Regions from separate parts of the Homo sapiens genome. Here all the other regions are linked to region 2. Evidence: fine-mapped expression QTL. A gene starts in region 2. Each other region holds a variant in brackets. All regions are shown on one strand. Distances are from middle to middle.

Region 1 (10,415 bases), 100 kb after region 2:
GTATATAAGTATACACACACATACATATATATGGGCTGCTGGTTTTAAGAATGCAGATTCTGGGCCCCACTCCAGTGGCGGGATAGGGATGAAACAAGATTGGCCATACGCTGGTAATTGCTGAAGTTGGGAAATGGGTACGTGGGAGTCCATTATACAATTCCCTATGTTTTAGGTTTGAATTTTTCTGTAAGAAGATTTTGCGGGTAGGGGAGGAGGAGTGAGCTTGAAGGGAATGTGGGCTGGCCTAGACCAGGTTGGAGCCAGCAGTCTCTAGGAATGGTCAGCTCACAAGGAATCCACATGGGTGTAATTAACTGCAGTGTCTCCAGTGGGCATTTGGCAAATTGTATCAAAGGCCTTAAAAATGGTCATTGCCTTTGAGTCATCAATTGTACTCATAGGAGAGTAAGCTAAGGAAATAATTAAGAGAGTGTACAAAAATCTAGGAAAATAATGTTCATTAGGTCATTGTTTATAAAATTGAAAATGAGGAACCACGTCAGTGTCCAGCCATAGGGGGTTGACTGAGCATGGTAACTGCCCAAGATGAGCGAGGTGTGTCAGGACCTTACTGGCAGTCAGGCAGCAAAGATTTATTGAGCACCTACTATATGCTGGGCATTGGGCTAGGTTCTGGGGATAGAGAGATGAATAAAACAAACTCTGCAGAGCTTATGTTCTGTGTCTTAGACCTGAAAAGTTGATCATGATGTTCAGTTCTTAGAAAAAGATGGCTGGGCGCGGTGGCTAACGCCTGTAATCCCAGCACTTTGGGAGGCCAAGTCGGGTGGATCACGAGGTCAGGAGTTCAAGACCAGCCTGGCCAAGATGGTGAAACCCCCATCTCTACTAAAAATACAAAAAATTAGCCAGGCGTGGTGGCAGGCGCCTGTAGTCCCAGCTACTCAGGAGGCTGAGGAAGGAGAATCACTTGAACCCAGAGGGTGGAGGTTGCAGTGAGCCGAGATCGTGCCACTGCACTCCAGCCTGGGTGACAGAGTGAAACTCCGTTTCAAAAAAAAAAAAAAAGATACGGTATGGTCCTATTTTAGGAAAATACAAATATATGTATAAACATGTCTGGCAGTTTATATGTGAGACTGTGAACCATAGTTTTCTGAGGATGGTGAATTTATGGTGATTTTTTGTTTTGTCCTTGGTGATCACCTGTGTTTTGTACAATTTTTTTTTTTTTGAGATGGAGTCTCGCTCTGTTGCCCAGGCTGGAGTGCAGTGGCAGCTCACTGCAACCTCCACCTCCCGGGTTCAAGCGATTCTCCTGCCTCAGCCTCCCTAGTAGCCGGGACTACAGGTGTGTGCCACCAGGCTTGGCTAATTTTTGTATTTTTAGTAGAGATGGGGTTTCACCATGTTGGCCAGGTTGGTCTTGAACTCCTCACCTCAAGTGATCCTCCCACCTCGGCCTCCCTAAGTGCTGGGATTACAGGCGTGAGCCACCACATCCGGCCTTGTACAAATTTTAACAAGAAATATTACAGGGGTGATTTTGATAAGGCATTCACTTTTTCATTCCTTCAAGTTTTTAACCTAGGGCAATGGGCGTTTGGACACCACTATCAAGCGTGGTCTTGGGCTCTTGTTTTAAAAATGCAAATTCTGAGCTCCACCCTTGACCCATTTGGCGGGATGCTCCTGGAAAGAGGTCCAGGTGTCTTTTTATTCCAAATGATTCGACTGCTTCTGACATCTGAGAACCATTACAGGGTTGAACAGAGGGATGTTGGAGTCTTCATGGACTGGGCTCTGCGGCTGCAGGACTTTTCTCGGGTTTTCAGAGGAACCTACTCAAAACAATTCAAGAAGCACTTCCTTTGCTTACTGAGATATGGCTTTGGCAGGAAGGGGCAGGGAGGGAGTGTCAGGGCAGTGAATGCTGTCTGCATTCCCAGCCTTCTTACAGAAGAGGACTGACTCGACTCTGCGACCAGGCTTAGAACCCACAGGCCTAAATTTCTGTGTTATTTTAGCTCTGTAGTCCGTGACCCGAGATTGTGGAAGGCCCATGAGCTTCCTGTAAGCATCCCAGAAGGCCCAGGAGAGTTCATACCTTTCCTGAGTGATATTTGGCAGCTCTGGGCCAGCATTCTATCAGCCCAGCATTGGATTCCAGTTACCTCACGCTTATCAGCAGCTGATTCATCTGTGCTTTCATTCATGCCCCTGTCCAATCATCCTTCCATCCGTTCATTCATTCAGTAAGCATTTGCCACGGTCCACTTGGTACCAGGCCCTGCACGGGGCTCTGGGGACACAGAGTTGAGTAAGGCTCCATCCCTGCCTTCAGCAGCTCCCCCATCCAGGAAGAACTGATCTGCCGTTGATTTCTTTCCCCATTCTCAGTTCATCAGTGCTTCATTGGTGCAGTTTTTCTGGTTGATAGGCTCTTTTCTTTTTAATACTGAAACCTAGTTTGTTTTAAAAGTAAAACTATTCAGACAATGTCAGAGGATGTACAATGAAATGGGATCTTTCTCAAATCCTGCCTTCCTCCCCAGAAGCTAAAGCTGCCCGTGGTTCCTTGGGCATCTTTCCAGATAATTCTCCTATATATTTACATGGATACAGAGTGTCTCCTCCTCCCCCAATCCATGGACACATGTGTATCCTGTCCCATGACTTGGTTCTTTTCCCTGTTGGAGAATAGCTGCTCCTAGCACCCACACTTTTTTTTTTTTTTTTTTTGAGACAGAGTCTTGCTCTATCGCCCAGGCTGGAGTGCAGTGGCATGACCTTAGCTCACTGCAACCTCCGCCTCCCAGGTTCAAGCGATTCTCCTGCCTCAGCCTCCTGAGTAGCTGGGATTACAGGCACCTGCCACCACGCCTGGCTAATTTTTGAATTTTTAGTAGAGACGGGGTTTCACCATCTTGGGCAGGCTGGTCTCGAACTCCTGACTGCAGATGATCCACCCACCTCGGCCTCCCAAAGTGCTGGGATTACAGGCGTGAGCCACCACGCCTGGCCAACACTCACTCTTTCATGGTTGCTCTATTGATGGACATTTGGGTTGTTTCCAGAATTTTAATGATGTGCACAGTGCAGGAGGAAAGATCCTGATGGATAGAGTCTCCCAATTCCCGGTATCCAAGGGGAGAAGATGAAGAGCAGTTGGTTGGTGGTAAAACTGGGGAATGAGCCCCCTGCCGTGCCCAGGGAATTTAGGCTTAGGATTGAAATGACATAGAGCTGTCAGCGGGCAGTGCCCGTCCCCCTGCTTCATTCTGCTGTGTCCTTCCCGCAGCCCTGGCCTCCCACGACTACATCCTGAAGATTGTGCCCACGGTTTATGAGGACAAGAGTGGCAAGCAGCGGTACTCCTACCAGTACACGGTGGCCAACAAGGTGCGCGGGCGGTGGCTGGGCCGAGCTGTGTGCGGCGGCGCCCTCTGCTGACGGAGAGCAGAGATGACAGGCGGCTGCACCGACGCACTTTCTTCTGATTCCTTTCTGGAGGCCTTTCCTGGGGGTTAGCTTGGGCCAGGCGCTGTCCCTGGGTAAAATTGAAAAGCCCAGTCCCTGCCATGTGGCAGTCTCAGAGTCAAGGAGAACAGATCTAACCAGGAGATAGGGTGTGATGCGTTTGACAAAGAGCAGGTAGTCTCTGTCCTACAAAGGTCCTGGGGTTGCAGGTCTCAAACAGCCCTGCATCTGGTCCGAGTCCTTCAGACACAGACCCCTGGGTGCTCAACACAGACAGACACTCCTGCTCTCAGGGCACAGGCACTTTACCCAAACTCATGAGGCTACTGAGTCACACCAAGATGGCTGTTGATTAATTTGCTGTTGATTGACAGGGGTGTCCCCAGGACCCCAACACTCAAAGTCATGGAGAAGACGCCAGGCCTTAGTGGGCAGCAGAGCATGGTCAGAGTCTGCAGAGTGGGATGACCCAGCAATTAGTGGTCTCAAGACAAGACAGCCTTGGGCTTCCCTGGGGGTATCCCACCAATGGGACATGAATACTTGAAACCTGTTGGTTGAAATGCCCCTGCTAGACCCTGGCGGATGGGTTTTTCCCACTTACCACCAGGACTGTCCTTTTTCTTCTGTTCCAAGGCTGCCCAAACCCCTTATAAGTGATACCTGTTTAGCTCAGTTAATTATAACAACAGTAGGAGGCATAGCTGTCACTCATTGAGTACTTCCTGGGGGCTAGACATGCTAAGCTCTCTTCTTCCGTCTTCTCAATCATCATGACAGCTCTGATGTTGAGACTGTTATTGAGCCCATTTTGTTGATTTGACCATTGAGGCACTGAGAGGTGGTTGTAGAGCTATAAAGTGGCTGAGTGGGGATTAGAACAGGTTTTCCTTGGGCTCCAGAGCCTGGCTTCTTGATCACCTCACGCCTCGGTCTGAGGAAGGGGCTGTGAGTCTGCCCACCTGCGAGCTGCTCTCTGTCCAATGACTTAGTCCCTCTGTTCTGACTCACCCTAAATTGATGTTCCCGGGAGCCCCTGTTTCTTTTATTCACTGTTTCACAGGGGGCATCTCATTGTAACCCTCACATGCTCATAGCAGCTAACAGATGGA[A/G]AAGCACAGATGCAAGCTCAGGACCACGCTGCAGTTCAAATTCCAGCTCAGTCATTCACTAGCTATTGACCCCGGACATGTCACATAGCCACTGTGTGCCTCAGTTTACTCATTCATAAAATGGAGATGATACTTTATAAGAGTGCTGTCACATGAGGCAATGTTTTCAAAAATGCCTAGCCCACCAAAAAAAAAAAGCCTTTAGGTAAGTGATACTGACTGCTGCTATTTTTCACTCTTTTTCTCTGTCCCTCAGCTCTGGGTTGTGACCCAGACAGTCATCCTGCCCCAGCAGCTCTCCTGGAGAAAGCTGGTCTTCCCTTGCACAAAGCTCCTTTTCCCAATGCTTTGGCAAGGCCCAGCAGCCAAATACAGCTTGCTTAGCTTCTCTATGGCTGCAGCCGCACTCTGCCCTGGGAGCAGGCAGCAGCGACCCAGCGGGAGGTCAGGGCTCAGTGTTACTTACCCCCGGAGTGGCCTGGGCTCCTCAGGCTCAGCATGTGGGGTTGGGGGTACCCCAGTGGTTCAATTTGGCCTCCAGTTGTTGCAGACTTTAGCACCTTGAAGTGCCCAAACTGGAGAGATCCCAGGGATCATCATCCCAGGCCCATCCGTGTTTAGATGGGGAAGCCAAGTCCCTGAGGGAGGGAGGGGCTGGCCCAAGGATGCACTGTTAGCTCAGCCTCGTAGTATCCTTAGTCCCTGCTGTGTGCATTCTCAGGAAGGTTGGTGGCAGGGCGGGGCCTTCTGGCTTTGCAGTTCAGTCTATTCCTCTGAAGAAGCTAGCCCACTCCCCACGTGGCATTTACACCCATCACACACACACACACACTGGGACTCCTGCTTATTCATCATGTGTGGCTCAGAATGTCCCCTCCCCAGTCTCCCAGATGCCGCCCGGGAGAATGGGTCATTCATTCATTCCCCTCAACTCTCCATGTTCCTCCATCCCACATGCATGATGTCACAGTGTTAGGGATATTCTTATGTCTTCCTCCTTCTGCAGACTGCGACTCCCTCTGGGTAAAGGGCAGGACTTGCTCACCTCGGGGTCCCCAGCAGCCAGCCATGGGCCACCACAGTGGAGGCGTTCAGCAAACCATTGTTGAATAAATGAATGGATTTCGCGTGGCCCAGAGGTTGAAGGAGGCAATAGCCAAAAATTGCACTTTTCCTTTTACAGCTCTGCTTTCTAATTTATTTTCTGATTCTGGTGCTGCTTGCAGCTCACTTGGTCAATTTCTAAACAACCAAGGGTATCAAAAATGCCCAGCTGTGCACGGCAGAGTTCAGGGCCTCCAGGGGAAGGGATGTGAGAGAGGGAGTGGGGGAGTCTGGCTTCGTGGGGCAGAGAGGGAGGAAAGCCCTTTCTGGAGGGTTGCTGGGGGGCCCTCTGCAATCCAGTCCCCGCCCCCCCTGAGACACAGTTTGTACTTCTGATTCTTATATCCTCTACCCCAGGAATACGTCGCCTACAGCCACACGGGCCGCATCATCCCTGCAATCTGGTTCCGCTACGACCTCAGCCCCATCACGGTCAAGTACACAGAGAGACGGCAGCCGCTGTACAGATTCATCACCACGGTGAGTGGCCTGGGGCAGTGGGTGGGGCCCTGAGCCAGCCACCCTGCGCCTGCTCTGGGCCCCTTTCCTTGGCACCCCTCACCTGTTCTCGCTGAAACAGGAGGCAGCCTGCAGGGCTAGGGGCTCTGGCTGGGCACAGGAGGCTTCGACCCCAAGGATGCTGAGAAATGTTGTCAGAAACACATCAGTATCGATGACGTTTTGTCTAGAAAGTATTTTCCAGAGGGGAATGCCCTGAAATCCATTTAATTCCTGAAGCAAATCTCCATATGGTTCCACTAGATGTTTAGGATTTTCTCCAGCTTTTTATTGTTATGGAAATTATTCTTAGCAGAGTTTATCCTTTAATGTGTAAATTTTGCACCAAAGATTGAACTCATTTTTTTTTCCAGGTCTAATTTCCAGTTATAGCTGCTGATAGGGTCCGATTTTTCCCTTTCCTTCCTCTCTGTTCTCTCTTTTTTGCCATGGTCTCTACCACATCCAGTTTTCTCTAGGGCAGATTCAAGCTGATGTTAGTTTTCCTTTATGCTGATTATTTCTATCATGTCTACTGTTTCCTGGCCTCCCATTCAGAAGGTCCTTAGGGTCAGAACAGGAGGGTCAGGGTGCCCTTCTTCACCCAAGAGGCCCAGGAGGTACTGAAGAAGCCAGAGTTAGCTGAGGTGGAAGAGACAGGGTGGCTATCCCTACTTCACAGATTTGGAAACTGAGACCTAAAGATAAATATGGCATTGGGAGGCCCTTATGCTTCTGTACTTCTTCATGCTTGTAATGATGGTTCAAGATCAAGGGCCTTGGCTCTTTCATTTCCCGCAATAACTAGGTCAGTATTAGTCAGGACTCTGTTACCGAAGATCCAGAACCAGACCTTGAGCTGGCCTGAGGAGTAGAAGGCCTCAGGCATGGCTGGATCCAGCCTCCAACATTGCCAGGAGTAGGTCTCTATCTTCGGATCTGCTTTCCGCTACACTGGCTTCATCTTCAAGTAGAATTTACCAGTAGAAATGGCCTCTTTCTCAGTCATTCTAACCAAGTCCTAGATAGGACAGAGCTCTCACTGGCCCAGCTCAGGCCTCATGCCATCCTTGTGGCCTGGGAAATCAAATGCTCTGGTTGGCCAGGCTTAGGCCCTGTACCCTCTCTGGTGTCAACCCCATCCAAACCGCAGGGACACAGATTGTGAGGAATGAGGTTTCTCAAGAGAAAAGGCAGGGGCCAGCTACTGGAAGAGGAAAGAGTGGGTGCCAGGAGGCAGAACAGTGGGATGTTGTGACAGGGTCTCTGCCTTCTCATCTGTGAAGTAAGAACGATCATCTCTGTTCCTGCCACCTCCCAGGGCCTTGTGGGACTCAGAGGAGATTGTGAAAGGAGAAGCTGTTTGCAGATGTGAAAAGCCAAGTAGGACGGGGCACAGTGGCTCACACTTGTAGTCCCAGCAGTTTGGGAGGCTGAGGCGGGAGGATCGCTTGAGGCCAGGAGTTTGAAACCAGCCTGGGCAACATTGTGAAGGCTTGTCTCTAAGAATCTTCTTAAATTAGCTGGATACGGTGGTATATGCACCTGTAGTCCCAGCTACTTAGGAGGCTGAGGTGAGAGGATCACTTGAGCCCAGGATTTTAAGGTTAGAGTGAGTCATGATCGTGCCACTTCACTCTAGCCTGGGCAACAGAGCGAGACCCTTTCTCTAAAAAACAAAAATCCCCAGAAAACAGACAGAGAGATACAAAGGGTGTCATAAGTCTGGTGCTTACATGAGCCTCAGAACAGTTTTTTGCTGTTCTCTTTGACCACATAAAAGTTAGAAACTCCTGTTCAACAAACGGCACATAACATAAAGCAAAAATCTCACACGCAGCCTGGGAAAAGATACTTGCCATCCAAATGGGAAAGGGGTAGCCTTCAGAATTCATATGTAAAGAACTCCTACAGATCAGTAAGAAAAAGTTAACAACCAAAAAAGCAGACAAGGCCAAGGACCAGCTCTTCACAGAGGAGGTGATATTGGCAGTGAAAAGATGCCCAAGTTCACTAGAAATTGGAGGGATGGGATTTAAAACAAGACTCAATTCAGGCCAGACGTGGTAGCTCACACCTGTAATCCCAGCACTCTGGGAGGTGGAAGCAGGAGGATGACTTGAGGCCAGGAGTTTGAAACCAGCCTGGTCACCGCAGCAAGACCCCCTCCCTACAAAAGAAAAGTTAAAAAATTAGCTAGACATAGTGGTGCATGCCTGTAGTTTCAGCTAGTTGGGAGGCTGAGGTGGGAGGATTGCTTGAGCGTGGGAGGTTGACACTGCAGTGGGCCATGATGGCGCCACTGCCCTCCAGCCTGGGCAACAGTGAGACCCGGTCTCAGAAAAATAAAAAAATTAAAAGACCCAGTTGAATCCTATTGGACTGACAGAAATTGAAAACTTGCCCGGCTCACACCTGTAATTCCAGGACTTTGGGAGGCCGAGGCGGGCAGATCACCTGAGGTCAGGAGTTCAAGACCAGCCTAGCCAACATGACAAAACACTACTAAAAATACAAAAATTAGCGGGGCATGGTGGTGGGCGCCTGTAATCCCAGCTACTTGGGAGGCTGAGGTGGGAGAATTACTTGAACCTGGGAGGGAGAGGTTGCGGTGAGCCAGGATCACTCCAGTGCACTCCAGCCTGGGCAACAGAGTGAGACTCCGTCTCAAAAAAAAAAAAGAAAGAAATTGAAAACCTGCTACTACAAAGATTGGGAAGATGTGAAGCCCTGGGAACCCACATGTGCTATTGGTGTGCAGGGACATGGGTACAGCTACCCTGAGGGGAGATGCACAAACCCCAGGACCCAAAAAATCAGGGGATTTGTGAGCAAATGATTTAACCCAAGACCCCGCAGGGTAGCACACCCCAAGTGGGTCTTGGTGCTGATTCTTACTGCAGCTCTCCTACTCCACACCCACGATAAGCCACACACAAAGATACAAGTAGGTTCCCTGGTGCCTCCATGAAGGTCTAGACCACTCCTCAGAGGCCCTAGGGTCTGTACATTGACTATAGCAGAGAAACCCCCTCCAGCCATGCCTCACAGTAGGGTTCAGAAGGCTCTTTTCTGTCCCCGTTTCTGTTTGCTCCTGTATGGAAAGCAGCTGAGACTCTGGGCATTACAATCATTTGGCAATGGCCGGGCACGGTGGCTTATGCCTGTAATCCCAGCACTTTGGGAGGCCGAGGCGGGGGATCACTTGAGGTCAGGAGTTCAAGACCAGCCTGGCCAACATGGCAAAACCTCGTCTCTAGTTAAAATACAAAAATTAGCTGAGCATGGGGGTGGGCACTTGTAGTCCCAGCTACTCGGGAGGCTGAGGCCGGAGAATCCCTTGAAACCCAGAAGGCGGACGTTGCAGTGAGCTGAGCTGATGCCACTGCACTCCAGCCTGGGTACCAGAGCGAGACTCTATCTCAAAAAAAAAAAGAAAAAAAAAAAGAAATCGGCCGGGCACGGTGGCTCACGCCTGTAATCCCAACACTTTGGGAGGCTGAGGCGGGCGGATCACCAGGTCGGGAGTTTGAGACCAGCCTGACCAACATTGTGAAACCCCATCTCCACTAAAAGTACAAAAAATTAGCCGGGCATGGTGGCACATGCTTGTAGTCCCAGCTACTTGGGAGGGTGAGGCAGGAGAATTGCTTGAACCTGGCAGACAGAGGTTGCAGTGAGCCGAGATCACGCCACTGCACTCGGGTCTGGGCGATAGAGTGAGACTCCATCTCAAAAAAAAAAAGAAAAAAGAAATCACTTGGCAAGTGGCTGAGAAATGAAGCAACTTCATTTATTCACTTAACATTTGCTAGAATTCACTATGTTCCGGCCCCCGTAGCAGGCACCAGGGTCAGCTGAATCATACGCAGTCCCTGCCTTGAAGGAGCCCCCTGCTGGAGGGGCAGATGAGTGAGCACAGGGAGCTGTGACCGGCTCTAGTGGAGATGTGCGCCAGACACTGCAGGCAAACAAGAGGGCGCCATCCCCTTTGTTTGGGAAGCTCTAAGAATAGAACCCTGTGATGGGCCTTGAGCTGAGGAGGAAGGGCCCGGGAAAGGGAATGCTATGCGCAGAGGCGCCCAGTATAACATGTCGTATGAAGTCCATGCCACCCCCTTTGGCAGGTGACAAACTCCCCAGTGAGCCGCTGACCTTCTGAGAGCAGGAGGCTCCAAGAAGCCACGGGGAAGACCCTTCCTTCGTCAGAGACCCAATGCCTCTATGACTCCTCCTTCTCTTCCTGTCCTTGGCCAC
Region 2 (10,415 bases):
ACTTTCTTAAAACATTATGAGATTTTTTGTGATTTGTTTTCCTCATCAGCTATTGTTTGTGTTACTGTTTTTTTGTTTGTTTGTTTTTTGAGATGGAGTTTTGCTCTTGTTGCCCAGGCTGGAGTGCAATGGCGCAATCTCAGCTCACTGCAACCTCCGCCTCCTGGGTTCAAGCCATTCTCCTGCCTCAGCCTCCCAAGTAGCTGGGATTACAGACACCCACCACTACACCCGGCTAATTTTTTGTATTTTTAGTAGAGACGGGGTTTCACCATGTTGGTCAGGCTGGTCTTGAAGTCCTGACCTCAGGTGCTCGGCCATGGCCTCCCAAAGTGCTGGGATTACAGGCGTGAGCCACCGCACCCAGCCCGTGTTACTGTATTTTATGTGTGGCCCAAGACAATTTTTCTATTTTTTTTTTTTTTTTTGAGACGGGGTCTCCCTCTGTCACCCAGGCTGGAGTGCAGTGGCTCCATCTCTGCTCACTGCAACCTCTGCTTCTCAGGTTCAAGCAATTCTCCTGCCTCAGCCTCCTGAGTAGCTGGGATTACAGGCATGCGCCACCATGCCTAGCTAATTGTTTTTGTTTTTAGTAGAGACGGGGTTTCAGCATGTTGGTCAGGCTGGTCTCAAACTCCTGACCTCGTGATCCACCTGCCTCTGCCTCCCAAAGTGCTGGGATTACAGGCGTAAGCCACCACGCCCGGCCCCTAAGACAGTTTTTCTTCTTCCAGCGTGGCCCAGGGAAGCTAAAAGATTGGACACCCCTGCCTTAGAAGAATCACTTGCAAACTCACCCACAGGGGCTTTTCCTTAGGGCACAGAAGCCACACACAGAAGCCAGCTTATCCAGGGTGACTGATCCAAGAGATAGCAAGAGAGTGTCCAAGACAGAAGTCACCATCTCTTGATAACCTAATCTCAGAAGCAACATGCTCATCACTTCTGCCATATTTTGTGCATTAGAAATGAGTCCATAAGTCCAGCCTACACTTGAAGGGAGGAAATTACACAAGGGTATGAATACCAAGAGGTGGGTTAATTGGGACAATTTCAGAGGCTACCTGCCACAGGTAAGGTATTATTATCCTTCATTTCATACCTAGACACCCAGCTAGTTAAGCAACTGGTCCAGGTCACCCAGCAGAGAGTGATCTGAGTCCAAAGTGGTTTTCTATTTCCCCAGGCTGGCGGGGGGTGAGATGGAGGAAGGCAGGGAGAAGTTACTGGTAGGAAAAAAAAATAATGAGGATGGAGTCTCTGTTATTTATCTACTGCTGTGTAACTAATTACCCACAACTTAATGGCTTAAAGCAAACATTTATTATCTTATAGTTTCTATGGATCAGGAATTCGGGAGCAGCTGAGCTGGGTGTTTCTCAGGGTCTCTCAAGAACCTGTGGTTAAGCTGTGGGCTGGGGATGCAGCTTTGAAGCCCTGACCGGGGCTGAGCCGCTACTTCCAAGAGAGCCCACTCACATGGCTGTTGGTGGGAGGCCTCATTCCTCACCGACCAGGCCCCTTTATAATCGTGCTTGAGCCTCTTTAGGACAGGCAGTTGGCTTCCCTCAGAACGAGTGATTCAAGAGTGGCTAAGCAGAGCCTCAGTCTTTTGTGACGTAGCCACAGGAGTCATAACTGTCGTTTCTGCAATATCCTGTTGATTACACAGGATAGGTCAGCCCTATTCATTGTGGGAGGTGATTCTAGAAGGGCATGGGAATACCAGGAGATCAGGGTCACTGGAGGCTGGCTACCTACCACAGGCTTCCACAAGATTGATAATCCGAAAACTTAACTTGTATTGTTGTTCCCTGCTCAAAGAGACCCAGAGCCTTCCCACGTACTGCAGACACAATCTGATTTTCTTAGCTCCATCTCCCACTGGCTCTTGAGTGGATGGACCATCTGGGACTGACAGCCTGGTCTGCTCACAGACCTCACCAGTCCCACAGCGGAGGCCCATGTTGATACCTCCCCTCCCATCCGCTGTTCTGTTGGTAAGGCCTGCCTCCGTGGGAAGGCCTGCCTCCCTGGGAAGCCTCTATTCAAACTTCAACGCATAGTTAGTGCATCCCCAGCATGTGCAGGGTCTGGCTGGATGCTAGGATATGATGGTGATACCACCTTGTCTCAGGGAACTTTCCTTTTTTTTTTTAAATTATACTTTAGGTTCTGGGATACATGTGCAGAACGTGCAGTTTTGTCACACAGGCATACACGTGCCATTTGTGTATGGCATCATTGTTTGTGTACCCATCAACCCGTCATCTACATTAGGTATTTCTCCTAATGCTATCCCTCCCCTAGCCCCCTACCCCCCGACAGGCCCCTCTCAGGGAACTTTCACTCAGATGGGGTAGTAGTTACTAGCGAATTAATAATAACCTAATCACACGTCATGCCCAGTTCTCCCAAGGAAACCTACAAGGTACCATGCGATTATGTAATAGGGGACTGGCCTAGTCCATGAGCATTGGGGCAGTCAAGTAGCTAGCCAGGCTGCATAGGTGTATCAGCATTGGGTTTAGGTGTAAGTGTCTGAAAATACAGAATAACAATAGCTTAAATAAGATAGATGTTTGTTTCTCTTGGGCAGGTGTTTGAGGACAGGTATTTTGCCACTTAGAGACAGGAACTCAGGTTTTTTTTTTTTTTTTTTGAGACAGAGTCTCACTCTGTCGCACAGGCTGGAGGGCAGTGGTGTGATCTGGGCTCACTGCAACCTCTGCCTCCCAGGTTCAGGCGATTCTCCTGCCTCAGCCTCCTGAGTAGCTGGGATTACAGGCGTGTGGCACCACGCCCGGCTAATTTTTGTATTTTTAGTAGAGACAGGGTTTCACCACATGTTGGTCAGGCTGGTCTCGAACTCCTGACCTCAGGTGATCCGCCCACCTCGGCCTCCCAAAGTGCTGCAATTACAGGTGTGAGCCACTGTGCCCGGCAGGAACTTAGGCTCTTTTTGTCTTGTTGCTCTGCTCTGTGGTGGCCTCCACCTTATGGTCCAGGATGGTGACGCCTACATTCCTGGCAGCCAGATGGAGAAAGGGACACAGAGGGTAAAGCAGACATACCAACTATCCCAGATGCCCCACAAGACACTTCCCTTTACTTCTCAATGCCACATCTAGCTACAAAGGAAGCTGGGGAAATGCAACTTTCACTGTGAGCACCCACATGCCCAGCCAAAAGTTGGGAGCTCTATCCCCACTCGAAAAGAGCAATGATAGTCAACCCTGTCTTGCATTTACTCTGTGCCAGGCATTTGCTGACCTTGGATATCATCCCAAATGCACACTTGATTCAGTAGGTCTGGCCTGGGGACAAGAGTCTGTCCTGTGATGGCCATGTGGCTGGTCTGTGGACCACAGTTTGAGGAGGGAGGATTCGAGGTCAAAGATCCATCATTGCATGTTTCCTCCCACACAGGGCCAACGAATGGCTGTTTGGAAGCAGTGGCTGCTCAAGATCCCTTAACTCTCCCTGCTGTCCCTAGGTTTCCAGTTCAGGCTGAGATTTCCTTTTCTCCCCCAACAGTGTCAGACCACTGACACTGAATGAATGAATGAATGAATGAGTGAATGAATGAAAAGGGAACGCAGAGGTCAGGTCCCGGCATATGCTCTAGGGGAAGGCTTTGGTTCACCACGTCACCCTACCCCAGACCCCGTGCTAGTGTTGTCCCTTCTGAATCCTCCCGGAGGAACCAGCACTGCTGTTCCCCTCTATTTACACAGGGGGAAACTGTCCATTGACTCTGCTTTTGGAACCCGAGCCCTCACCATTCTCCCCTGGGTTTTTTGAAGCCCTGTCCCACCACAACCTTGGAGAAAGGGCCAGTGACAGAACCTCGGGGAAGTTCAGAGTGAGTTTCCCCTACTCAGGTCTTGTGTGACCTCAACTACCATCTCCTCTAATCCAGCAGTCACGGAGGCAGCTGCTCTGTATTCCTGAGGAGGAAACTGAGGCTCTAAGAAGGAGACAATCGGCACAGTCCACGTTGGCCAAGTCACAGTGCAGGTCCCATCTGCCTCTGCCACAACCCTGCATGTTCTCGATGGACCTGGTTCAGAGCAGATGCTCTGTGAATGCCCACTGGAGTGAACGACAGGGGCAGATGGAAGCAGGGACAGCCACTGCCAGCCTCAATAGTTTCAGGTGCCTGGCACTGTGCTAAGCCAGTCTCCTGTTTCTCAGCTGATCCCCAGGAAAACCCCCTCAAGTAGGTGTCATCGTCCTCTTTGTGCAGATATGCAAAAGGGGCGGGGCGGGGGGGGGGCGCTCTGAGAAGCCCAGTGGCTTTCCCAGAGAGACACGGCAGGGGCAGAGGTGAGTCCACCTTAACAGCCTAGGATGGCCGACCTCTTCCCTTCCCCCACAGTATTAGGCCCTCACTCAGAGCTAGACGCTGTGCACGGCCAAAGTCTGTATCACCCCGCCCCCCGCCCCCAACTCAATCACAGTTCAGTGAAACTGTTTACAAATGCAAAAAACTGGGCTCGGAGAAGCAGAGAATTTGTCCGAGGGCATCCAAAGAGATGGAGAAGGAAATCTAAGTGGGAGGCTTGAAGGAATGAGTACTGGAGTCTTTGGGGGACTCCCTTCCCTTCCGACAGCCTCGACTCTCCGCCCCTTCCCTGCCTGCCCGCGGGCCCCTTTAACCGGGTGGCGGAAGGGGCGGCCGGGCGGGCGGCGCCCAATGGGCTGCGCGGAGCGTCACTTCCCGGCAGCGGGAGGCGAGTGGCGAGTGGCGAGTGGCGAGTGTCAGGGGGGCGGCCGGCGGGGGCGGGGCGGCCGGAGGAGGCGTTGGCAGCGGGCTCGGACCCACGCGGCGCCGCGGCCCGCCTGGCCTGCAGCGCTCCCACCCCCGGCGGCGGCACGATGCCCTTTGACTTCAGGAGGTGAGTGTGGCGACCCCGGCCAGTCGGGAGTTCCCTCAGCGGGCAGAGGGAGCGCCCCGGCACGCCGCGGACCCCTCCCGCCCTGCATGCAAAAGCGGCTCCCCGCCCTGTGCATGCCTCCGCAGGCCCCTAGGGACCCCAGGCGAGCCCCCCCCCTGCCGCACACGAAGCCAGCCAGAGCCGCGGAGGCCCCCTCGTGCAGCGGGAGACAAATCCACCCACCTTCCCTCCGCCGAGCCCCCTCCCCAGCCTGCCCGGATACCTTGCATTCCCCTCCCCCACACTAGGAAACATTTCCTCCCTCCTCCCAGATGGGAACAGCCCATAACACCCCAGCATCCCTCTCCTCCCTCTACTGAGCCTCCTTGGTGGACCCCACCTCAGCTGACAGGTGGGGCAGGGCACCTGGAATGAGTCCGGAGGGGCCTGGGGCCCCATGCAGCCTGCCGGCAGCTGGAGGGTTTTAAGTTTCTATAGCCTGAGGCTCCCCCAGGCCGGGCAGATCGGGAGGCCTGCCCCCGCCCCTCCCTCCCTCAGCCCCAGCCCTGTCCGCTGGGTATGGGGGCACCATGGGAAGGGGAGGAGGCGCCTTGGGCAGGACTCTGCAGAAGGGCCACCGGGGTCTGGCCTTGGCTTTCTGCAGTCACCACAATGGGTCCTTTGTGGGGTCCAGCTGCCTCATGGTCTAGGTTGCATGGGGCATTCTGGAAGCCTGCGGGGGAAGAGATCTCCACCAGAGGTTCCCTTGAGGTGTGGAGCCCCAGGGGATGTCCTGGCCTGAGGCAGCCACACTTGGTGTCTGGCTGGGAAAAGAGCAGGGCTTTAATGCAGGGAGGAGCTGGATTAGAATCCTGGCTCTGCCCTTTCTACTGAACAGCTCGGTATATTCTAGAAGTTAGGGGCAAAGGCTCTGGGTTCAGAACTCCCTGTCGCCGCTCGGCTGGCTGACCTCAGCAAGTCTCCGAGCGCCCTCAGTTTCACCACCTGCAAATTGGGGCTAAAAATAAGGTCTCCGCTTGTGACGACTGAGTGCGTGAAACACCCTTAGCAGAGTCTGGCATGATTTAGAGCTCAGAAATAGGGCATTAGTGGATGGGGGGTGTTCTCCAGGAGGGGTTTTCCACATCCACAAAATAGTGATTCAGATGCCTGTGCCACAGGAGGTATTTCTTCCCCTCTTCTTGCATGTGAAGGCAGTGTAAAGTGACAGTCTACCCAGAGAGAAAGGCCCTTAGCCTGCCATGACCCCCATAGCATGGGATATATTGGGGTTTAGGCCCAAAGAGGACACTGGTCTTGGACCTCTTGATTGGTTGACATGGTTTTCCAGCCTGTCCGGGTCCCTGATACCAGCTAGCAAATGTTTGCCGGCTTCTTGCCCCTGCCGGGCAGCCCTGAGGCTAGCAGACCTAGGCAGTTTTGAACAAGGACAGCCCCTCTGGTGGAATTCAAGGTCAGTCCTAATAGCATCAGTTAAGTCTGGGCCATAAGAGCTGTGGTCGGCACATCAATTTCTGGTTCCACAAAGCCTCCCCTTACCCAGGCCAACCATAGGGATTCGTGCCACCGCCGCCCCCTGCCCCTGTGTGATTCAGTAGGTTCCGGTGATTTTGAGCTTGCTGGGGAAATTGCTGTTTTTGATCTTTTAATCCTTTCTCCCTGCACCTCACCCTTCCGTCTTACCAAGGAGGAAATGAGGCTCCAGGGATGAGGGCCTTATCTTGGACTTTATGGGTGCTAAATGGGAAGGGTAGACTTAGGTCTCAGGTCACACATGGCTCCCAACCTTGTGCTCCTTGAATTGGTGGCTTGTGGGGGCAGGTAAGGGAAGTAAGGAAAATGGGTAAGGCCAGCTCTAGCCTTTGGCCTTGGAAGGGCCCTGTGTCAGGCATTGATATTTAAAGAGAGAAATGCTCAGCTCTGAGAAGCTGGCTAGTCTGGGGCTCCCTTGGCATACTTCAGGTCCCTGAGTGCCCAGGTGTCAGGGGGCCCAGCTTAACTAGGAAATACTCTCAGGGCTTGGGCTCACTGCGGAATGGTGAGAATGGATTCAGTGCTTCACGTTTGCACCTTGGAGGATGAGCCATGTGTGCCCAGCAAACCTGCACTCTTTAAGCTCTGTGAACTTCAAGGCTCCAGGACCTGGGTTCTACTGAGGGTTCGACCATCCCCATGCACCTTCCTCCGCTTCAGTGTGCATTCATCAAGCATTCATCAAGTGTCCAGTCCATGCTCAGCCCTCTGCCACAGGCCCCACCGTGAGGAGGTGGGTGGCATGTGGTCCGGCTCTCTTTGCATTCCAAGAGAAGGGAGGAGGGCTTATGGGGTCCCAGGAGTGGGGGTGTGCGTGAACTGGCACGCAAGGAGCATCTACCACTGTATACACACTTTGGGGTGCAGACATCGATTCCCTTGTCACCTGAGAGAGGGAGTTTTAATCTTCATTTTAAATCAAAGGAGAGGGGAGCTCCACTGAGTAGAAGCCCTTTGCTCTGGCCATGCAGTGCATGAGCTGGTGGATCTGGGATTTGAACTTGGGGCTGTTAGCTCCAAAGCCTTAGATCTGGGAGAAAAGGGAGAGATTGGAGGGGCCCACCATCCTGTCAGCTCTTTTAAGAATTGTGGGGAGTGGAGAGGGGTATACCGTGATTAGACCTCCTCCCCCAGTTCAAGGCCAGGGAGAAAACCAGCCGTCCTGCTCGTGTTCCCCTTCTTAAAATCAGAAGCAGGAAAAATAGTGCACTCTTGCCCTTCCCTACGGATACTTCTGATTTTCTTACTGCCTGTAGAGCCTGGTGCAACTGAGTTCTGTGTTTTCCTGTCTGTGAAATGGGAATGAGGAGAGTACTCACCGAAGTAGAACAGTTGAGGGATGAGGCAGTGCGGAAAGCATTTAGACACAGAGTAAGCGCCTCATCCATTTTGGCCGCCATATTTATTTGTGTCATTTTATTTAAGCACCCATCATCTCCTAACACATTATATAATTCACTTAATTATCATGCTGCTTCTCTCTCCCTCCCATTAGTACATGAGCTCCTGAGGGCAAGAAGTTTTTATCAGGCTTCTTCAAGGTTGCATCTCCAGCACCTAGAACTGTGCTTGAGCCAAACTCGATCCTTGGAGATGCCTCTTGAAATCTGTCAAGGAAGCCATAGACATGACGTGACTTGATATGCCAGCTTCAGTGGGCAGATTTTCAGCCATTAGTGGAGAAATCTCCCCTCTCCACCCTTGAATCTGCCGTTCCTAGGTTGTTTTTGGGGTTAAGGAAGGAGGCAGAACGCAGGGGAGGGAGGCTGAGCTTTCAATGATTTATTGTGTTTGCTTTGCTCTTGTTAAATTGTTTCACTAATGGCTGGCTGTTGCAGTTGTGGAACTAGCCTTGTGACCCACATCCGTGTGTGTTGTTTCGAGTTCCGGCTGGCCTGGGGCCAGTAGCACCTGCTGCCTTCTGCACACCAGCCCAGGGTGGGTGAGGAGGGAAGATAACAGCATCCGGAAGCCCTGTGCCCAGGCCCAGTGGTGCCTGAGCACTGCCTTCCGGGAGGTGCAGGTGGCTGCTGTCCCACAGTGACAGCCCCCATGTTGAAAACCCAAGGCCTCGGGGGTGCCGCTGCACTGGCACTGACCAGATGTGCTCTGGGACCATTGACTTCCCCTCTCGGAGCCTCCATTTCTTCATTTTAAGGAGGGGATGTAAACTTCGCTGCCTCACCTGGTAGAGTAGATGTAGGGGCAAGTGTGATCAATGCACACTTGCAGGATCAATGTGCAATGCAACTTGCAATGCAGGATGAGGCCCATAATTTGTGGGGCCCAGTGCAAAATGAAAATGTGGAGTCCCTTGTTGAAAAAGTATTAAGAATTTCAGGACGGCAGCAGCAGCGCATTCAGCCAAGCATGGACCCCCCTCTGAGTGTGTGACCCTGTGTGCCTGCACAGGTCATGCGGCCCTGATGGGGCTGGCCCTGCTGCAGGGCCTTGGTTTGGCCTCTACCATTTTTCACTCTGGCCTTCTGAGTGGTCTTTCTCCCTCCAGGATACCCCAGACCTCCTCAGGACTCCCTAGTGAGCTTTCCAAAGTTGATCTGATATTTTCATGTCCTGATTTCAACCTTCAAATGGGTCTCATTGCTCTAAGGATCCAGTGTGAATTCCTTTTTAAAAAAAAATTATATAGAGATGGGGTCTTGCTATGTTGGCCAGGTTGTTCTTGAACTCCTGGCCTCAAGTCATCCTCCTTCCTTGGCCTCCCAAAGTGCTAAGATCACAGGCATGAGCCACTGCACCTGGCCCAGTCTTAATTCCTTAGGCCCCAATAGGGAATGGGACCCTGGTAGCCCCATCAGTTCCTACACCAAGCTAAGCCTCAGCCACCACAGGGACCTCTGAGCACAGAGTTAACATTCAGCAGAGAGTAGCTAACATGAATGCCTGTATTTCTACCCTGCTGTTTCTTCCAGAAAGAATTCCAAGGAAGCTGACAAGAACATATACTTTACAGCAAGTTTTAAAAAATATAAAATGAGCGCTGTGGCTCATGCCTGTAATCCCAGCACTTTGGGAGGCTGAGGTGGGCGGATTACCTGAGGTCAGGAGTTTGAGACCAGCCTGGCCAACATGGTGAAACCCCGTCTCTAATAAAAATACAAAAATCAGCCGGGCTTGATGGTACATACCTGTAATCCCAGCTCCTCGGGAGGCTGAGGCAGGAGAATTGCTTGAGCCCGGGAGACGGAGGTTGCAGTGAACTGAGATCTTGCCACTGTACTCCAGCCTGGCCAACAGAGCGAGACTCTGTCTCAAAAAAAAAAAAAAAAAAAAGTATATATATATGGGCCAGGTGTGGTAGCTCACACCTGTAATCCCAGTACTTTGGGAGGCCAAAGTGGGAGGATTGCTTGAGGATTGCAGGAGTTCAAGACCAAGCTGGTCAACATAGCAAGACCCCAGACCCCATCTCTATGGGGAAAAAAAAATGGCCAGGTGTGGTGATGTGCGTCTGTGGTCCCAGCTTCTTGGGAGGCTGAGGTGGAAGGATCTCTTGAGCCCAGGAGGTGGAGGCTTCAGTGAGCCATGTTCATGCCATTGCATTCCACACTGGGTAACAGAGCAAGACCCTATCTCAAAACACACACACACATACACACACACACACATACACACACATACACATACACATATAGCCTTAAAAATCAGGGCAAAAAGAAAATAAAAATTAGACCAGAGAGAAAATTATGTGAAAAGGCCAGTATTTCGGGTTTATTGAACATTTGCTAGTGCCAGGCACTGTTGTAAGGATCTTACTGTATCAGCCCCTTTAATTCTCCACAGTCCTACAAGGGAGGTGCTGTTGTTACCCCACTTTACAGGTGAGCCAGTGGAGGTGCCACAGAGTTCGGAAACACGGTCGTTCCCGTTCCTGGAGCTGGGATTGGAACACTGCCATTTGGCACCAGAGCTCCACTGTGTCCTGTAGGCTCATCTCTAAAGCTTTCTCTTTTCCATTCA
Region 3 (10,415 bases), 33 kb before region 2:
AATGGAATGTTCTTGTCACGTGGCCTGCCAAGGGGGGATGCTCTCCCTTGTCCTTAGGGTGGAAACAGGAGAGGCCCCATAGATGTCAGCAGATTGTCAGGTGACCGTCCAGCCCAGGCAGCTTGGCTCCAAGAGGCCAGGTTTAACCACTGGGCTCTCTGCTTCCCCGAGAGACCACTCCTATCAAAAGGTGAAGCTTGTGATTTGGGCCCTAAAACCAAAAAGCCAATGAGATGCTGGTAACAGAAGCCCTACCAGAGACAAAGTATCCCTTCGTGGTTACATGTGAAAGGCTGGGCACAGGAGTATCAGGAAAACACAAACACAAAGAAAGCAGGGCTAGCAATATGGATGGCAGACAAGACAGAATTTGAGGAGAAAAGCATGAAATTGAAGGATAAGGGGACCTCTTTGTCTCCATGTGCCACCTCCAACTGGCCTCTCATTTTTATTATCCTTCCTAGACCTCTTCCACCTCATCCAGTTCTTCTGTGGCCCCTTGGTGGCCAAGGCCCGCCCTCTTCATGCCCCACGAGAGATGAGCCAGCCTCCAGGTCTCCCACTGCTGCTTGGTTTCCTTTCTCAGGGGCCTTTGGGAGGTTGAGTTTTTTGTTTTTTTTTTTTTTTTTTGAGACGGAGTCTTGCTCTGTCACCCAGGCTGGAGTACAGTGGTGCCATCTTGGCTCACCGCAACCTCCACCTCCCGGGTTCAAGCAATTCTCCCGCCTCAGCCTCCCGAGTAGCTGGACTACAGGCGTGCACCACCATGCCTGGCTAATTTTTGTATTTTTAGTAGAGATGGGGTTTCACCATGTTGGCCAGGCTGGACTCGAACTCCTGACCTTGTGATCCGCCCACCTCAGCTTCCCAAAGTGCTGGGATTACAGGCGTGAGCCACCGTGCCCAGACGAGGTTGAGATCTTTACTGCTTGGTCTTCTTTGACCAGACATGGCTATTATCCCCTCTCTCCCCCAGTTTCCAAGGTTCCAACTCTGCCTGTTTTCAGGGCACTAGGGAGCTTGCCTCCCAGAAGGAGTGAGAGCGAGGGTGGACACCCAAAGGCCCTCTGCCTGGCTGGTTGCTCACACAGCTGTCTTTGAGTGAAGCGTCTGGCCCACAGTAGACATCCATAAATGTGTGTTGCCTAAACTCAACTGAACCCTTAGTCTATAAATTCTGTTACTTTAACTTGAAAAAAGTGATGAGGAGGTCTTATCTGACAGTATTCATCCTGAGCTATAGAGATCATTCTAGAAAATTTCCTACCGAATGTTTTCAGCTAGAAAATAAGCTCACTGGAAGCCCCCAAGCCCATGCCTGTCCCTTACTTCCTTCATTCAATGAGCATTGATCAAGATTGCTACCCAGCACTTGATGTTGTAAGAAATGCAAAACTGTGTAAGGCTTCAAGCTGCTAACACTATAGAAAGGACAGGAAGTCCTCCAGCCATGGGTCGATGTCTATGGAACATCAGCTATTTGCTCCCAGATATTGATTACTTACAGTGCAACAGGAAACAGAACACTTCGTGGAGCTCATAGTCTCCAGCGGGGGTTGACAGACATCAAAACCAAAATCACAGCCCCAAGCGCAATCATCCCAAGCCCCCATCACAGTACCAGGCACCCCATGCAAACAGCTGCCTTTCAAGACACTCGCTTCAGAGTTGGGCTCAGCTGGCTAGCACCTCAGCTGCATCACTTACTTTGTGTGACCTTGAGCAAAAGGTATAAACTCCCTGAGGCTTAGTTTCATTTTCTGTAAAATGTAAATAATAATCACTTTCTTCCTGGGGTCATGATAAAAATGAAAAGCAATGACCCAAGTAGCTGGCATATCATTATTATTATTATTATTATCATTATGATAATGACCATGACAATATAATAAATACCAGATGAATGGCACAGAAATGGGAGAGGGAGGGAATACTTCTTCCTGGAGAGAGGATGGTATGAGGATAATTTTCGGGAGAAGGTGGGTGTTGGTGCTGAGCCCTAAAGGAGGGGTTGGATTTCTATACAAGGAAGTGGCGAAGAGTGAATCAGTTCAAAAGTAGAAAAATGAATGATTCAGAAGGTCATTAAAATAAAACAAATAAAGAATCTAAACCAAATGACTGGGTTCCTTAAAAATAGGACATTGCATTGCCAAGCTAAGAAGCATTAGTCAGGCGGAGGAGGTGGCTACTGGGAAATTTCACCCAGTTCAGCATTATTGAGAAGTTGTGGGTTCCTGAAGCCTTCAGTGGGCGTTGTGCAATCCTGAGGGGTTAAGGTAACCCAAACCCTGGTCCAGGGAGTGAAAGGGAACTGTATAGGTTGGGGTCAATATTAGAAAAAAGCTCCTTGAAAAGCACAGTGGTCTCCACGGAAAGTGGTTAAGTGTGTTGGAGGAGTCTGGGGCGGTTCTACGGGCCAGGGGGCATCTGTCCGGGGAGCCATGACAGAGAACATCTGGAAGGCAGGGACTGTGCAGCCCGGGGTCTGGGTCTGACCCATTCATTCTCCCTGCAGTGTCTTGCAGTCTCTCCTTGCTTCTCTGCGCACTCTTCTGCGACAGGCACACTCCACCTTCCCTGTCCAACGGGTGGGGCTTGGTAGACGGGGCTCAAACCCCAGCTCTGCCACTCACTTGCTGTGTGATATTGGGCAAGTCACCTCACCTCTCTGTGCCTTCATTTTCCATCCATAAGAAGGGTGATCATAATAGGATTATGGTGAGAAATAAATGAAACACGCCTGACACACATAGGTCAGAAAATGTTAGTTCCAGCACCTTCTGTTCTCCTCCTTGTCCTGGCCTCATCCTCTCCTTCTCTACCTATTCTGATGATTTCTTGCTGGAGGTGACCATGGATTCTATTAGGCAAATAATTGAACACCTCCTGTGTGGTGTCCTGCCAGACAATGACAAATGTCATTGATTCATTTGTGTCATTCCACTTACATTAACAAATAACTATAACAGGATGAGCATTGTTCTTAGAATGAAAACAAAAATATGATACACAGACAAAGGGACGAGGGGCATACAGAGATGGAAAGGAAGTGGCCAGGGACTGGGAAGGGAGGAGCCAACATCTGCAGTGCCCCTGTTGTGTGCTGGGCATGGAGAAGGACCCCCAGGATCAAGAGAAGAATGGAGCCCAGCCTGGGCTTTGGAGGTGCCACGGCGCAGTGCGAGACAGACGCGCAAGCCTAAATGTTGGGGGTCCCAGGAAAGACTGTGGTTTTACTGTCTTGGGTGAGCTGGGGAAGGCTTTTGAGAGGAGGTGATAGAGGAGCTGGGTGCTGAAGGTTGAGTACTTACCAGGAAAGGCATTTGAAACAAGAACAACCCATGTGAAGGCCGAGCGGCATCAAAGAACAGAGTATTTGGGAAATAGTTGGGTGTTTCTTTAGAGTAAGTGAAATTCAACCTTTTCATTTAGCATAGGAACAGACACAGAGTAAGTGCTCAGTTAAGTGATTGAGCGTGGGTCCAGCACATTGGTACTGTTAGATCGTCCATCAATTTGCCCCCAGCTCTAAGCCTATATTCCTCGGGACAGCCCCATCATCTTCCAGGATGAGGGCAGCCTCAGGGTCAGAGGGAGGAGAGAAGTGAGCTACAAACAAAGAGAGGCAGTGGAGTGGGACAGGCCAGGGCTCGCTTCTCAGGGGCCTGTGCAACGTCTTTCCTGCCTGGGGCCGAATGTTCTGTTCCCTTCCCCGGACAGAACCCGAAGGTTGAGCCAGCCCGCTGACCCGGGCTGAGCTAACGGGAAAGTGGGCCGCACTGGGCCCCAAGTCATCAGCTCACCCTGATGAGCCAGGCCCTGGAGATTCCACCAGCCCCAGGCAGCATTTAGAGAAGTACTAGGCCGAGTCATCAGCTCTGTGCAGTCACTGCCTGCTAGGGCTGCGCAGGGTGAGTGGGGAAATAAACAGATTGCGGCACTGAGCCGTGGGAACCAAGCGCCGGGGCACTGGAGCTCTCTCCCTGGGTTTGTTACC[A/G]GAAGATGGTTATGTAATCAGCTCACTCATGCCTTCAACAAGCATGTATTGAGTGCCGACTGGGTGCCAGGCACTGTTTCTAGGCTCTGGAAATATAGCTGGGACAGATATAGAGACCCTGCCTCAGGAAGGTGACATTCTGGTGGCCAAACGCATGCGAACACTGTCCTCCCGCATTCAGTGAGTGTTTACCGGAAGCCAAGCTCTGTCCCAAGCACTGTGCTGATGATATCTCATTTCATCCTCTCTGTCACTGTAGGAGGCAATCTTTATTGTTATCCCATTTTACAGAACACACTCTCCTGCCTTAAGAACCCACCAGCAAGAACCCCCTTCCCCACATCTTCCCATGGTCCTTCTCATCCTTCAGGTCAAATTGCTTCTCAAAAGGCAGTGAGGGCCAGGCACGGTGGCTCACACCTGTAATCCCAGCACTTTGGGAGGTCGAGGTGAGTGGATCACTTGAGATCAGGAGCTCGAAACCAGCCTGGCCAACATGGTGAAACCCCCTCTCTACTAAAAATAAAATGTAAAAAAATTAGCCAGGCATGGTGGCGCACACCTGTAATCCCAGCTACTCGGGAGGCTGAGATGGAGAATCACCTGAACCTGAGAGGTGGAGGTTGCAGTGAGCCGAGATAGTGCCACTGCACTCCAGCCTGGATGACAGAATGAGACTCCACTCAAAAAAAAAAAAAAAAATGCAGTGAGGTAAGGTGGGGCACAAATGGTGACAACTTGCCTTACTCTCAGCTCTTGGTGATCTAATGGGTCAGGAACGAGGGGCCTAGCATCCTCTGATAACAGTCAGGCCCTGCCCACCCAAAGCACTCTCCTGAACTCACTGGAACTTAGAACTTTCAAATGCTGTCAGAGCCTTGTAATCATGCCTTTTCCAGCATTCCTTAATCATCATTACTCTGGGCTCAGGCATTTAATTGCTCATCAGTTTCTTCATACTTTCATGAATGGAGAATTTCTTCATTCTTTCAGGGCGAGTACAGCCTTTGGTCAAATTGTGCCGTAGGTGAGTACTCCCCACCGCACCAATTCTACCCCTGCCCCATAACTGGTATTCTGCCATATGCCTTCACTTACTCACATGAGCCCTGCTGTGTGCCAGGAAATTGGGTCAGGAGCCCCAAGGGAGGCAGAGGAAGAAGCAGCCACCATGATCAGGGGCCAGAGAGAAGGTGGCACCAGGGAATTGGTGAGCCCAGGGATCGTGTCACCCCACAGGGCTAAGAAAAACATTGCCTGCCATCAGCTGCATCTGGAAGGCTAATAGAAGTCATCCAGGTTCAGGGCTGTCTGGGAAGAGAGGAGTGAAAGGACATGTGGCCTTTGGGGAACCTGGACATAGCCAGGGGTGCACCACAACATCTGGGGAGTAAAGGGGCCCAGGCAGCCAAAGGGCCAGCAAAGAGATGAGGGTGGCCAAAAGGGCAAACTCATGGGAGGTCTTCAGATTGGGATTAAGAATTTAACTTATTCATTCAAGAATGAATTCAAGTTGTTGAGCCATATTTCTGATCTAGGAACTGTCCTAGACCTTAGAGACTTGACTACGAAGAAGAAGGCAAGGCTCCTGCCCTCAGTGGAGTCTACCTGGTAGTGGGAGAGTTGGAGCCAGACTGCACCTGCTCACAAGAACAGGTTGTTTTAGATTTTCAGGAATTTGGACAGCCATGTGACATCACTTTGGTAGTTTGAAATTGGCCACAGTGGGTATGTTTACACCACAGAAATTGGCAGACGCTGTAAGGCAGCCTCCCCACTACCCACAACCATCCTGCACCCAAAAGCCGATGTTAAATATTTGCCAGGATACCACTAGGGGATATAGACAATAAACAAGTAGGCAGATAGGCAAATGTGGTAACAATAGATTGTACATAAGGGAAAAAATCAGCAGGGCCTTATGGTACAGAGGGACTGATGGGATGGGGGTGACCAGGGATGGCTTCCAGGAAGTGAAGTCACCTGAGGCTAATATTTAGATCCTGAGGAGGAAGGAATCAGACTTTTATTTTGTTTGTTTGTTTGTTTTGTGTTTTTTTGTAGACACAGGGCCCTACTTTGTTGCCCAGTCTAGTCTCAAACTCCCGGGCTCAAGCGATCCTCCCACTCCAGCCTCCCAAAGTGTTGGGATTACAGGTGTGAGCCACCATGCCCAGCTAGAACCAGGCTTTTGAAGAACTGGGACAGTGTTATAGACTGAATTGCTACCCCCTCAAAATTCATATGTGGAAGCCCTAACCCCCAATACTTCAGTATGTGAATGTATTTGGAGATAAGGCCTTTAAAGAGGCAGTTAAGTTAGAATGAGTCATCACAGTGGGCCCTAATCCAATGACTGGTGTCCTTATAAGAAGAGGAGATTAGGACAGACACCAAGGATGCGTGAGCACAAAGAAAAGACCCTCAGAGGACACAGTGAGAAAATGGTTATCTGCAAGCCAAGGAGAGACCAAACCTGCCGGCACCTTAATCTTGGACTCTCAGCCTCCAGAACTGTGAGGAATAAACTTTTGTTGTTTCACTATCACACACTATCCAGTGTATGGGATTTTGTTATGGCAACCTTAGAAAGCTAATAGAGACAGTATTCCAGGTAGATGGTACAGCAAGTGTCAGCAGCCTGGGGACATGGAGGGAGGCCAGTGCACCTGGAGCACTGTTGGGAAGAGGGGCCTTGATAAGGTACCTTTTCAGAAATTTTTTTTGTGGAGACAGGATCTTCCTAGGTTGCCCAGGCTTGATTCAAACTCCTGAGCTCAAGGGATCCTCCCACCTTGGCCTCCCAAGTAGCCGGGACTACAGCCACACACCACTGTGCCTGGCTAAAGTATCTGGTTTTCATTTAAGTGAGTTGGTGACCATTTGGAGAGGTTTTATTTTTTAAATTCATTTGTGACTTATTAAGATGACTTTTTTCGTGATCTTTCTAATATTTTCATTAAAAACTTTTAATTGGTATTAATATATAATTGTACATATTTATGGGGTACACGTGATATTTCAATACATGCAGACAACCTGTAATGATTAAATCAGGGTAATTGACATATCCATCATCTCAAACAGTTATTATTTCTTTGTACTGGGAATTTTCAAAATCCTCTCTTCTAGCTGCTTCAAAATAAATAATAAATTATTGTTAATTATAGTCACCCTGCTGTGCCATAGAACATCAGAACTTATTTCTTCTATTTAACCGTTTGTACCCATTAATCAGCCATTCCCTACCCCTCCTTGCCCACTTCTCTTCCCAGCCTCTGGTAACCACTATTCTACTCTCCACCTCTATGGAATCAACTTTATTAGCTCCCACTTATGAGTAAGAACACGGAATTTATCCTTCTGTGCCTGGCTTATTTCACTTAGCATGATGTCCTTCATTTGGAGAGTTTTAAGCAGGGAGTAACAGTATAGAGCTCAACAATAATCATTTCTTCTTCTACCAAGAAGATCCAACCAAGATTCTACCAAGAAGATCGTGGGGGATCCAACGAGATGGTGAGCATTCCAACTGTTAACTGCTCTAAATATGATGAAATGTGAGACAAATTGGGAGAATGGTAATAAGGGGGAATAATCCAACTTAGAACAAGGAGAGTCAGAGGTAGACGGTTTAATGATGGGAAGTTCTTCTCCCTCTGTAACAAGCCAAGAGGCAACACGCCTGCAGAAATCAGCTTCTAGATTCAATTCACCTCAACAAGTATCTAGTGAGCCATGCCTGATGTGCCAGGCTTGTTCTAGATTCTGGGGATAACTGAGATTTAAAAACAGCAGACAGTCCAGGTGCAGTGGCTCACACCTGTAATCCCAGCACTTTGGGGGGCTGAGGCAGGAAGATTGCTTGAGCCCAGGAGTTCAAAACCAGCCTGGGCAATGTAACGAGACCCTGTCTCTACACGAAATACAAAAATTAGCCAGGTGTGGTGGCACACACCTGTAGTCCCAGCTACTCAGGAGACTGAGGTAGGAGGATCGCTTGAGCCTTGGAGGTTCAAGGATGCAGAGAGCTATGATTACACCACCGCACTCCAGCCTGGTTGACAGAGTGAAAGCCTGACTCAAAAAAAAAAAAAAAAAAAAAAGCCAAAAACATAGAACAAAACCAGCAGACAAAAATCTCTGTCTTGTGGAGTTGGCATTCTGGGGTGCGTGTAGGGGAGTTGGGAGACAGCAAACATGTAAGTAAGATATAGGCTATGTCAGGTAACTGTGGTGAGAAAATAAAGCAGGGGAGCATGGGGAAGGGTGCTTGGGTGGAGAGGGGTTGCCATTTTCAACATGACAGCCAGGGAAGACGTCAGTGAGAACATGACACTGGAGTGAAGACCCCAAGAAGATGATGTGGATGCTGCAGGGCAGGCCTGTGGGCCCCAGTGAGATGGGGACCCCTGGAGGGTTGTGAGCAGGAGAGAGACACAATCACTCTGTGTGTTGTACCAAGAATAAACTCTCACAGGGAGACAAGGAGACCGGGTGGGAGGTTACTTCAAGAATCCAACAAATGCCCTTTTAAAAAATTGAATGGATGACCGCAGGCCTGTCCAGCCCAGAAGCCACATGTGGACATAGTATCTCCTCAACCTTCAAGAATATGTCTCCTAACACATGCAGCCAACTTTGGAAGGGATGTCACAGATCATCATGGGCTGATGTAGCTGTCCAAGAGATGGCATTGAATTTAAAAATTAGGTTGCAGAACAGCATAATCCATTTTGTGCATGAAAAGTGAGTAGGTGATAGATAATAATAGAAGATAGATGATAGATAGATAGATAGATAGATAGATAAGGATAGACAGATAATAGGTAGATGGTAGGGAGGAAGGGAGAGAGAGAGGGAGTGAGAGAGGACGAAGGAAGGGAGGGAGGGAGGCAGGAAGGGAGGGAGGGAGGGAGGGAGGAAAGGGAAGGGAACAGAAGAAAGGAAGGAAGGGAAGGAAGGAAGGAAAGAAGATACGGAGGGAGGGAGGGAGGAAAGAGAAAGGAACAGAAGAAAGAAAAGAAGGGAAGAAAGGGAAGGAAGGAAAGAGGGAAGGAAGGAAAGAAGGAAGGAAGGAAGGAAGACAGGCAGACTCAATACCCACTTGGTACTGGCTCCTTCAGCTGCTCTCCTGCTGAACTGAGGTCAATCCCACCAGAGCCCATCTCCTTCCAAACCACAAATTCAACCCTATAGTATTGCCAAACATGTGGATTTTAAAAAGTATTTTCTTTATTATGAAATATACATATAAGGAGTATATATGTTCAGGTCCACCATATTGCCAGAACCCAGTGTCTCAATCACATAGATTTTACTGCTGTTTTCCTTTAGAGATGGAGGAGGGTGTTGCACCACACAAGGCCCATCAAGGCTTCTGAAAACTTCGCTTAAGTGCCCCTTCTCTTTTCCCCAAGCTCCTCTGTCCACGGCATCCCTGACGCCCCACCCTGCGCTGTCTGTCAAACGCCCCTCCCAGCTCCGCAGCACTCTGGCCGCCTTGCTTCTCCTTTCTCTTCCTAACATTTCCAAAGCTGAGAGACTGAGAACTGGGCAAAACAAACAGTGGGCTGAGGGCCAAACTGGGATGCTACGGTCCTCCAGGACTTCCCTGGGGGCCTGCTCAGACTCACAAAAAACTCTCTACAGGTGTTACCTTGGGGAAGGCTCAGGGGCTTTAGCTTACCACTTGCCACCCTTTTGAACAATTTCTTCCTTGGAGGTATGTCGGTTTTAGAGAGACAGTAATCATACCCCCACCCAGACCTGTCACTCCCAGTTTGGGACACAGGGAAAGAGAGCAAAAGGAGGTCCTCGATCCCTGCCTACCCCTTCCCTTCCTGCCCCTGATCCAGCCTCTGGGAAGCTGTGTGGACAGCCCAGCCTGAACTTGTCTTGCCCGCACTCTCACCCCTAAAGCTGCCCTTTGGTCATCCCTCAGCCCTAGGTCTACTCTTGTTAGATCAGATGTGGAAAGAGGCCTAGGTAGGCCCTGGAAATAGATTTGGGGATATTTTAGCAGGGAATTATGTCCTGGGTGCCCAGAGCATGGGGTGTGGAGTGGCAGAACAGAGGGGAGGTTAATACTGCATCCACCCAATGATAAGATTACCAGCATCTTTATCCTTTCATCACCTCTTCTGTATTCTGTATTTTCTTTTCTTTCTTTTTTTTTTTTTTTTTTTTTTTTTTTTTTTTGAGATGGAGTCTTGCTCTGTCACCCAGGCTGGAGTGCAGTGGCGTGATCTCGGCTCACTGCAAGCTCTGCCTGCTGGGTTCACACCATTCTCCTGCCTCAGCCTCCCGAGTAGCTGGGACTACAGGCGCCCGCCACCACGCCCAGCTAATTTTTTGTATTTTTAGTAGACACGGGGTTTCACCGTGTTAGCCAGGATGGTCTCGATCTCCTGAC

What was found. PIP is the estimated chance that this variant, and not a neighbour inherited with it, causes the effect.
Region 1: its variant is fine-mapped to the expression of ERGIC1 in whole blood (TOPMed, PIP above 0.99).
Region 3: its variant is fine-mapped to the expression of ERGIC1 in whole blood (TOPMed, PIP above 0.99).

Annotation. Positions count from the first base shown.
Region 1 is chr5:172,929,171-172,939,585 of GRCh38, forward strand. It overlaps ERGIC1 (endoplasmic reticulum-golgi intermediate compartment 1), which reads left to right. Exons shown (of 10, transcript NM_001031711.3): 8 at 3,266-3,366; 9 at 6,018-6,140. Among named protein-coding and RNA genes, the nearest start is that of MIR10523, 19 kb to the left of the region's middle. RefSeq lists a silencer at 2,140-2,209 and an enhancer at 3,157-3,226. The variant A/G (reference allele first, on the strand shown) is at 4,557.
Region 2 is chr5:172,829,533-172,839,947 of GRCh38, forward strand. It overlaps ERGIC1 (endoplasmic reticulum-golgi intermediate compartment 1), which reads left to right and starts at 4,719. Exons shown (of 10, transcript NM_001031711.3): 1 at 4,719-4,901. The coding sequence starts at 4,882. It overlaps LOC124901135 (a long non-coding RNA gene), which reads right to left. Exons shown (of 2, transcript XR_007059054.1): 2 at 7,818-8,041. RefSeq lists silencers at 4,572-4,971, 5,342-5,391, 5,402-5,481 and enhancers at 5,465-6,457, 5,952-6,161, 6,458-7,449.
Region 3 is chr5:172,796,466-172,806,880 of GRCh38, forward strand. No RefSeq gene overlaps it. Among named protein-coding and RNA genes, the nearest start is that of DUSP1, 30 kb to the left of the region's middle. RefSeq lists a cis regulatory region at 5,792-6,700 and an enhancer at 9,350-10,166. The variant A/G (reference allele first, on the strand shown) is at 4,001.